Homo sapiens: one gene and its partner. The protein of the gene in region 2 purifies or fractionates together with the protein of the main gene of each other region. This does not show direct contact. Each region holds a gene or a part of one and is shown on either strand. Other genes may lie near its edges.

The links.
Region 1: the proteins of FRMD6 (region 2) and PALS1 purify together in Homo sapiens (co-immunoprecipitation; one large-scale study listed by IntAct). This does not show direct contact.

What each region holds. Positions count from the first base shown.
Region 1 is NC_000014.9:67,299,889-67,304,948, forward strand, and holds part of PALS1 (protein PALS1), read left to right. Parts: intron 1-1,500; coding exon 1,501-1,578; intron 1,579-2,083; coding exon 2,084-2,230; intron 2,231-2,521; coding exon 2,522-2,683; intron 2,684-3,633; coding exon 3,634-3,711; intron 3,712-5,060. UniProt on the Homo sapiens protein: Plays a role in tight junction biogenesis and in the establishment of cell polarity in epithelial cells.
Region 2 is NC_000014.9:51,724,037-51,728,755, forward strand, and holds part of FRMD6 (FERM domain-containing protein 6), read left to right. Parts: intron 1-1,742; coding exon 1,743-1,834; intron 1,835-3,568; coding exon of another isoform or gene 3,569-3,601; exon of another isoform or gene 3,602-3,708; coding exon 3,709-3,993; 3' UTR 3,994-4,719.

The DNA of each region.
Region 1 (5,060 bases), about 16 Mb from region 2:
TCCTCAGAGTTTCTTCAGCTGTCAAAAGGTGTATGATCAAGACTACAAATTTCATTTAAAATTAATGTAGACTTAATAAACTTTAAAAGGGAAAATACCCTCTTTTAAAAACAACTTTTAGTTACCCACAGTCTTAAATCCTGGGTCTTAAAGCCTTAAAGCCTTGTCCATTGTAAGATTTTAGTTGAGTTCTTGAAGAAGATAATATTTGCTGTGCCGTCCTGTTTATACATATGGAACTCTACAATTAGAAATATAATTTTCTAAGTACCAAAACCTGAGGACAGACTGGTTTTGGTACTGTCATTGCTTTGATCCACTTGCTGTGGTAAAATTAATTAATCCCAAAATTATCATCTCTTGGGTTTCATAGGAAAATTACTGATAAAATGATTTAAAATAGCCATAAAAGGTATAGAATTACTGGGTTCCTGTATTATGAATTACCTTTTTTTTTTTGAGAAAGTCTCATTCCATCATCCAGGCTGGAATGCAGTGGCGCCATCTCAGCTCACTGCAACCTCTACCTCCTGGGTTCAAGCCATTCTCATGCCTCAGCCTCTTGAGTAGCTGGAATTACAGGCACACGCCACCACGCCTGGCTAATTTTTGTATTTTTAGTAGAGACAGTATTTTGCCATGTTGGCCAGGCTGGTCTCGAACTCCTGACCTCAAGTGATCTGCCTGCTTTGGCTTCCCAAAGTGCTGGGATTACTGGTGTGAGCCATTGTATCTGGCCTGTTTTAAGATTTTCTTAATCAGTCTTTGAAGCACCATAAATAGTAGGTGCCATTCTAAAGATAAGGAAACAGGCTAAAAAAATTTATAACCAAGGGGAGTTTATCCTAGGAAGACAAAGATTTCTCGACTGTGGGAAATTTAATGTAATCCATTATATTATGGTGATTGTTCCATTACACTCATATAAATTCATCTTGTTAGACTGTCAGTCTTTTTTTTTAATTATATAAAAAAATTTATAAAATAGAGACAGGGTCTCACTGTGTTGCCCAGGCTGGTCTCAAACTCCTGGGCTTAAGCAATCCGCTTGCCTCAGCCTCTCAAAGTGCTGGGATTACAGGTGTGAGCCACTGCACCCAGCCTGACTATAACTCTTTAAGTTGTCATCTCTGATTTTAAATAGTCACATAAATGATTTAAAAACTATAAAATAGCAAGGTAACTGTTAGGACAGTTTTTCTTTTCTTATGTAATTATTATTAATGAATTTTATGGTATGTTGGGTGAAACGTTCAAGATGGAAGTATTTTGTCTATAGGCGTAAGTACCAAAATATTATTTAGTGTTTTTTTAATAAGAAATACTGTTGTTTTATCCATAATAACAAGATTGAAAACTCTAATAATTCTTTTTAGTGATTTTATTTCTTACAAGTATTTTTATTATTTTAATTTGTACTTAAAAAATATGACCCTGCATACAGGTGCTACTGATACTTCCTATAATCTAGGAAGAATAATCTTTATTTTTGTTTCTTAGGTACAAACTGTTTTGAAGCCAGTTCATCATAAGGAAGGACAAGAACTAACTGCTTTGCTGAATACTCCACATATTCAGGTAGAAAATGGACAGAATACTATATATGTGGTTTTTCCAGCATTCTTCTATTTTTTTAAATCAAAGACTCCAGTACTGGAAGAGATGTCAAACATTCTCTAGCCTATTTTGATGTTTACAACCCCATCTATAACATAGTAGTTATTGTTGGATTATATATTTTCAGATTTAAAATGAACCAAATTATTTTTGAAACAACTTTTTCTTTAAAAATTAGGCAAAAATTCTTCCCCCCTTTGGTTGTATTTTCTGTAAGTTTAATTATCTAGGGTGTGTAGACCTTTACATTGATGTTATCTTCCGAAGTTTAGTAAGCATTTTAGACTTTCATAACCCATTCCAGAGTATGCCCTTAGTATACTTAACACATCTTTATTATTAGCTCTAATTAATTATAACACTTTTAAAGATTTAATGGTCAGAATACTATGTACATAGGTTAAAAATCACTCTGCAGAAATAAATCATGCTGTTACTTAAAATGCCATGGATTTCTTTGAAACAGGCACTTTTACTGGCCCACGATAAGGTTGCTGAGCAGGAAATGCAGCTAGAGCCCATTACAGATGAGAGAGTTTATGAAAGTATTGGCCAGTATGGAGGAGAAACTGTAAAAATAGTTCGTATAGAAAAGGCTCGTGATATTCCGTTGGTAAGTGTCCCACATACTGTTTTTAAACAAGTGCATTTTTCTGCTGTTGTGTGCTTCAAAAGTCTGGTTAATTTCAGAATTCTAATGAATAGAGTATTTCTGAAGCAGAAAGTGTGGGGGAAATGGTCAACTTTTAAATCTAATTACAATTACTCTAGTTGTGTAAATAAATTTTTTCTTAAGATAACTGAAGGTTAGTATTGTTGAATGGAAAAAATAGAATTTAAAAATAAATGCTTAACAAAAATTGTATTATTTTTATTTTTAAATTATACATATATATATTTTTAGGGTGCTACAGTTCGTAATGAAATGGACTCTGTCATCATTAGCCGGATAGTAAAAGGGGGTGCTGCAGAGAAAAGTGGTCTGTTGCATGAAGGAGATGAAGTTCTAGAGATTAATGGCATTGAAATTCGGGGGAAAGATGTCAATGAGGTTTTTGACTTGTTGGTAAGTTGACGCAGCTAGAAGAATAATTGATAGCTTTTAGAAAGCTCTTATTAGACTTTAGAATAAAATATTTTTAAAATAACTGTTAAGAGCACTAGATGATTTCTAGCCTGATTTTTCCATGATGTAACTGTTCCACAGTATTTGTTAGCAGTTTTATTTTTGGGTGGTACCACTGATATTTTTTTACTTTCTGATGTATCACTATCACATATATTTTATTTTTCTGGAATCAGTAATATAACTCATTAATTCACTCAGTACATATTTATTGAGTGCCTAATATGCACTAGCCACTTGGGAAACAGTAACAAAACAAAGTCTGTGTCCTGATGATTTTTTGTGTTCTTTTATTTTATTATCTGTAATTGATTGTTGTTTTCCTAATAATATTAGATAATAACAGTGCTATAGATCTGCAGTGTCCGGCATAATAATCACTAGCTGCATATAGCTATTTCTGTTTAAATTAAGTAAAATTTAAAATTCAGTTCCTTATTCGCACTAGCTGCATTTCAAGTGCTGAGAAGCAGTATGTAGCTAATGGCTACCATTATTAAGATACAGAAATAGCACATTTCCATCATTGGAGAAAGTTCTATTGGATAGTGCTAGTATAATCAGAAAATCATTTCTAGACATCTTTTGAGTGCAATTTATGATCACTTTGTACACACGCACAGACTAGATTTATGGTCCTAGTTATTCAGCATCTGTTATTACAGTGGAATCTGTACTATCTACTGATTCTGTTGTAAAATCTAGAGACATCTTCACACACTTATTTTCATCCAGCCCCATTCATTGCTTTGGTAGAGCAAAGTGCTGCTGGTCATTTAAGTCTGTGGAGGGGTTCTGAAATAGTCCAGTTTAGGGAATATAGATCATAAAATCATGGAATGATTTTCATAAATGCAAATTTAAAAAATAACCTGATCTTTCTATTACAGTCTGATATGCATGGTACTTTGACTTTTGTCCTGATTCCCAGTCAACAGATCAAGCCGCCTCCTGCCAAGGAAACAGTAGTAAGTGATTTTTAAATGTTCATTATTTATGTGTTTGTGGATGCTGTTTACTTCTGTTACTGTTTACTGTTACAGAAATGTCACTGTTTCCTGTACTCAAATAAATTCAATCATTTTTATTTAAATAAATATGAAATATCAATGTTTTAAATTAGTAAACTCTGCACCTTTTTTTTTGGAAGGTGGAAGATGGAATCTCCATCTGTTGCCCAGGGTAGAGTGCAGTGGTGTGATCTTGGCTCACTGCAACCTATGCCTTCCAGGTTCAAATGATTCTCCCACCTCAGCCTCTTGAGTAGCTGGGATTCCAGGCGCATGCCACCACACCCAGCTGATTTTTGTATTTTTGGTAGAGACAGGGTTTTGCCATGTTGGCCAGGCTGATCTTGAACGCCTGGCTTCATGTGATCTGCCTGCCTCGGCCTCCCAAAGTGCTGGGATTACAGGTGTGAGCCTTCACATCCAGCCAACTCTGCACCTTTTTAAAATAAAAAGTAGAAAATAATTTCAGTTTCAGAATTTTTTTTATAGTTATAGGTGGGTTTACTTAACTTAGTATGGAGTAGGGCAAGTGCTTTTTAAAAAGTATGTGTAACCCTTCTTTTAGAGTATATTGTTCTGTTAGACATTTACTCAGCTAGATCTGTTAAAAGTCAGTCTCCATTACCATACAGTCAAGCAATTGCATTCCAAAGTATATATCCAAAAGGACTGAAAACATATATTCACATAAGAATGTCTACATGAATGTTCATAGCAGCAGCATTCACAGTAGCTAGAAAGTAGTAACAACCCAAATGTCTGTCAGGTGATGAATCAAAGACAAAATATGTATGTATGATGGGATATTATTTGATAATTTTAAAAGCCTACAGTACTGATATATGCTACAACATGGATGAACCTTGAAGAAATTATGCTGAGCGAAGGAAGCCAGTCACAAAAGGCCATATATTGGTTCATTTATATAAAATGTCCAGAATAGGTAAATCCATAGGAGAGAAAGCAGATTAGTAATTCCTTAGATGTGGAGATGAGGATTTATGAGGGAATGGTGATTACTAATCAGTACCAAGTTTCTTTTTGAGGGCATAAGTATGTTTTAAAATTGTTTGTGGTGATAATTGTACAAATCTGTGAATAAACTAAAACCATCCAATTGTGTACATGAGTGAATTGTATATGAATTATATATCAATAAAGCTATTTAAAAATGAAACTTTAAAGTGTTGAATTAACATGGAAGCTTGATGTATTGCATCTGTTATTCTTAACTTTAAAGCATAGCAGTTTGAGAAAGAACACAGTTTCATTTTTCTCTCAATATTTCATCACAGGTATGCTTTATA
Region 2 (4,719 bases):
ATCTTAGTTTTCTAAATTCTCTATTAATTTGAGCATTTAAACGTTGCTTATAAAACATTCAGCTAAGTACTCGCCTTGGCAGCACATACACTAAAGTTGCAGTGATACAGAGAAGATTAGCATGGCCCCTGGGCAAGGATGACATGCAAATTTGTGAAGTGTTCCATATCTTTAAAAAAAAAAAAAACACTCAGCTAAGATTGAGTAGTGATGAAGTATACCACACTGTCTTTCATTCTTACAGAGTTTGATAGGAGTTGGTTAAGTGTTTTGAGCATCAGCTCGGTGTTGACTTTTCCAGTGGTGGGTCTGAGTTTGGAGAATACTCTTTACAGGCATGATAGCTGAGGGCACATTTACCAGGAAATCGAAAAGGAACCATGACAACTTGTTTAAAGGTTTAATGCTCTTTAGAAGATAAAGATCGTTCTAGATCCTCTACTAAAGCCATTTGTACTAACTCCTAAAACATGAGTATCCCCTGAGTTTTTAAAGTGTCTACTTGTAAACCAGTAATGTCTTCATATTTCATGTTTCAATTGAACTAATTATTGAATACTTAATATGTTTATGGCATATGCTAGACACTGAGTCATTATGAGATGTTTCTAAAGAGTTAAGGGATAGAACACAAGTCATTCTGTAGACTACTAGCAGTAGTTGAATAAGAATCACATTACTTAAAGGGTTTTTTGTTTTTTTTTTTTAAGAAGCCATTTGGCCTTATGGATCTAGGGCTTGACCTGTAGTACACTTGCTTCATCCATTGGCAAGAAAAATTTCAGCGGTGTTCACTTACACCTCTAGTTCTTATTGGTAATTTTACCTTCTGAGACATGTTTCTACTCAGTGCTTCACTCATATGCCAGTCACATAGGGAAATGTCAGCCCTGGATTTCTGCTTCTGAAATTTTGGCGGGTTTCCACCGAGTGCTAAAGTGCTTAGGTTAGGTGCTCTGTTGTTCTCAAAGACCCAGTACTGAATTTTCACTGTGGCCTCCCAGTTTGTCTCCTCCCAGGGGGATCTGCTGCAGGAGGTATGTGCCAAGTGTCCCATCACCCAAAAAGAGCTGCTGTGAACTGAGTGTATCCATGTATAGTCCCTGTACCTCACCCTTTTATGCATTCACTGTGTAATTATTAAAACTAGCAGGCAGGTGCTGTTATTGGCCCGATTTTATACGAGAAGGAGACTGAGACACTGGGAGGCTAAGTAACTGGCCAGGACACATGGCTAATTAGTTATCTGGGCCAGGATCCAGCCAGATCTATCTGACTTCAGAGGCCAGAGCCCCCACAATTCACCACTATACATCCAAGCCGAACCAAATCTAGAAGGCATGTGTTCAGTAAGGGTTAAGTTTAATGTTGCTGCTGAATAGAAAGGGGAAGAGGGGAAGCTTTATGAGATGCAGTAAAGAGGCTGCTTTATACCTATAGTCTTTGCTTCTTTTCTATAACTTCATCATAAATAGCTTAATTAGAAGTTTGTTTTAGAAAATTCAGACTAAACATCTTCTTACACTCTAACCCTACTTTGACTCATTAACCTCTATTTACTGTAAGATGAGAGAGAGTGTGTGTGCTGTTCTGGTTGTCTGCCACCAAAGAGTCACAGTGAAACTTTTTGGTAATGGTTAATATTTGATTTTTCATTCCTGATAGCAATATGTCAGAATATATGGCAAGAGGTGTGAATAATTTGAAGTATTTATTGTTTTTATCTCTGTGTTTTATTTCAGGGTTGATTGTGAAAGAAATTGGGTCTTCCACCTCGAGCTCTTCAGAAACAGTTGTTAAGCTTCGTGGCCAGAGTACTGATTCTCTTCCACAGGTATTAAAGGAATTGAAAAATATCAGTTAGGAAACTGAAGTTATAGAAAATTTTAAGTAGTAACTTACATTTATACAAATGAGCAAAAATTAAAAACCCTAAGGAAATGATCCTTCCTAGATACGTACATTCTAGCTTTATTCTGAATTTATTTCCATCTTATTTGCTAGTTCTGCTTATCTTTGAGTTGATTTTTACTTAGATAAGTTATAGATTTTGCTTCACATTTTATATGGTTGGGAAGCCTCTGTTCTTCAGGCTTCAGGCGAACCACGTGTGCACATGCATGTGTCTGTGTGTGTTGCTTGTCCTCAACCTGGGAGAATAATATTTTTTGTCAGTGTGTTCTGGCAGAAATGTTTCCACACTCTGGTTATTCCATTCAGATTGAATTTTCAAAGTATGCTGAGCCTAGAGCATTTGACAACCTGTGATCATTGGTTAAACTATTAAATGTCCAGCAATATAGATAAAATACTCTGAAACTCATGGTTTCAGCATTTGGATGTAATGTATGACTAATGGCCCTAATTCCTGAGCACTTCCTCCCTCCTCCTGCCTTTCTTTCTTGGGCTCTCTTTGTGTCTTGTTTTTTTCCCTTCTGTGTGTGTTTCTCTTTTTTCATTTGCATTCTGGCTCTCCTTGTCCCTACTTTTCTCTTCCTCTTTCCTCCCTTTTTTCTCATTTGTCTTTTCTTTCTCTTACTTGCGTTGAAGTAACCATAATGTGAAAATGATGTTTATGAAATATTTTCCTGAAAACTGCAATGAGTAATCTACTCTTAAGAGATGTTTCTGGGGCACAGCTGATAGTCAGATTCCACACCTACACTATGGGGAGAACTTTGTGTGCCTTCCTTGAGAGTTTGTGGGGATGACCAAATGATTCTATGTGTGAAATCCTGTTGGAGTCTGGGAAGACAGCATCAGCACAAGGGATCACTCGGATGTGACACTTCCTAGTAAAACATGCTTCTGGAACTTTTGCCTCTAGCAAAAATTGTATCTTATTCTAACAGGGTTGTCCTTTGTGGTGGGAAGCAGCAAAATTTAAAGATATAATACCTGGTTTCCTTAAATAACCCATTGCATATCTTCCATTCATATAATTATCAGAATCATTTTTAACCTATTTCTAATACCACCTCTTGGGATAATAAAAAAAAGTCTGCCCCCTGCTGTGTACAGCATTTGGCGGAACCCCCCCACCCCCGACTCGTGTTCGGGAACTTAGTCCTGGTGCCTGCCTCCCAGCCTCTTCAACACCAAGAACACCCTATATCCTACCCAGCACCAAGAACACTTTATATTCAACCCAAGAATTCTGGCCTTTTAAAGAGAAAAACTGTGTTTCTTGGTAATAATTGGTTTATTTTCCTATTTCTTAATAAAATAATAACAGACCTTGGCCTAAAAGGTCTGAATTGCCATATCCTACTGAAAAAAAAAAAGGAAGCCATGTCTTTACCTATATGACCTTATTTCAAGATAATTACTTGATTTCTGAAATGCTAGGGATAGTTGGATTCCTGTTGTATTTGCACCTCTGTGCTTTGGATTATTTGTAAAATGAGGAGAATGATAGTGCCTGCTTCCTAGGACTGTTAGGAAGATTAAATGAGTTAATGCATGCCGAGTATTTAGGTCAGGGCCTGGCACATAGTAATTGCTCGGTAAATGTTAGCTGCTATTATTACTGATGGAGGTGGTGTTGATGATATATTTCCCCATACAGCCCAGAAACCACAGATTGGAAACCACTTTCTAACATGTAAGGATTACTTAACCTTTTGTGGTTCTGTAGCATCTCTCTTTACAAGGCAAATATTCTAACCTTTCACTTTAAAGTTGTTTCATCCTTCCCTTATCTTGCAGACTATATGTCGGAAACCAAAGACCTCCACTGATCGACACAGCTTGAGCCTCGATGACATCAGACTTTACCAGAAAGACTTCCTGCGCATTGCAGGTCTGTGTCAGGACACTGCTCAGAGTTACACCTTTGGATGTGGCCATGAACTGGATGAGGAAGGCCTCTATTGCAACAGTTGCTTGGCCCAGCAGTGCATCAACATCCAAGATGCTTTTCCAGTCAAAAGAACCAGCAAATACTTTTCTCTGGATCTCACTCATGATGAAGTTCCAGAGTTTGTTGTGTAAAGTCCGTCTGTGTGCAGCTGTACAGGCAGCTTACTGTTTGCTAGAGGATGCGAAAGTCATAAGTTCTTTACATATTACTTGTGCCATATCTTCTTCACCCTAAACATAGCTCTTTCTTTATAATATTTGTGATGATGGAAACAAAAGCCTTGGAACAATTGCACTTTAAGTATTACACAGAAGTAAAAGAACTACAGAAAATGTACAGCAAGACAAGTGCCCGGAAGTTCACTGATCCTTCAGAAGGAAATGCGCTTTACTGATTGCAAAGCCTTCAGAATATTGGAGTGTGGTGTGTTTGCTCATCTGATGCTTTTTAGTTCAGTTACATGTAACATCACATTTTTTTATCACGTGAAAGATGTTAGATTTGTTTGCTTATAAATTTTTTACCACTCCCACATAAAATGCTCATAGTTTGGGAGAGGAAAGAGGGAAGATTCTCTCTTCTTTTAACAGAGAGATGATTGCTCTGTATACCCATTGCTTCCTCCCTGAGGCTGTCCCAAAGTGAACACTGATGGAGTGGTCAAAATCATAAGGTTGTAGCAAGCCAAAGATACGTATGTGACAGAAGCACATAAGCAATAAGCAGAAAACCAGAAGTGCATGCTGTGATGCCTGTGACTCCTTCATCCCGCTCAGTGCCATGTCCTCTTTTGTGATCTTCCAGAAAGCTCCAGGATTCATTTGAGTTCCACATCCAAGTAACAGATGAATTATATT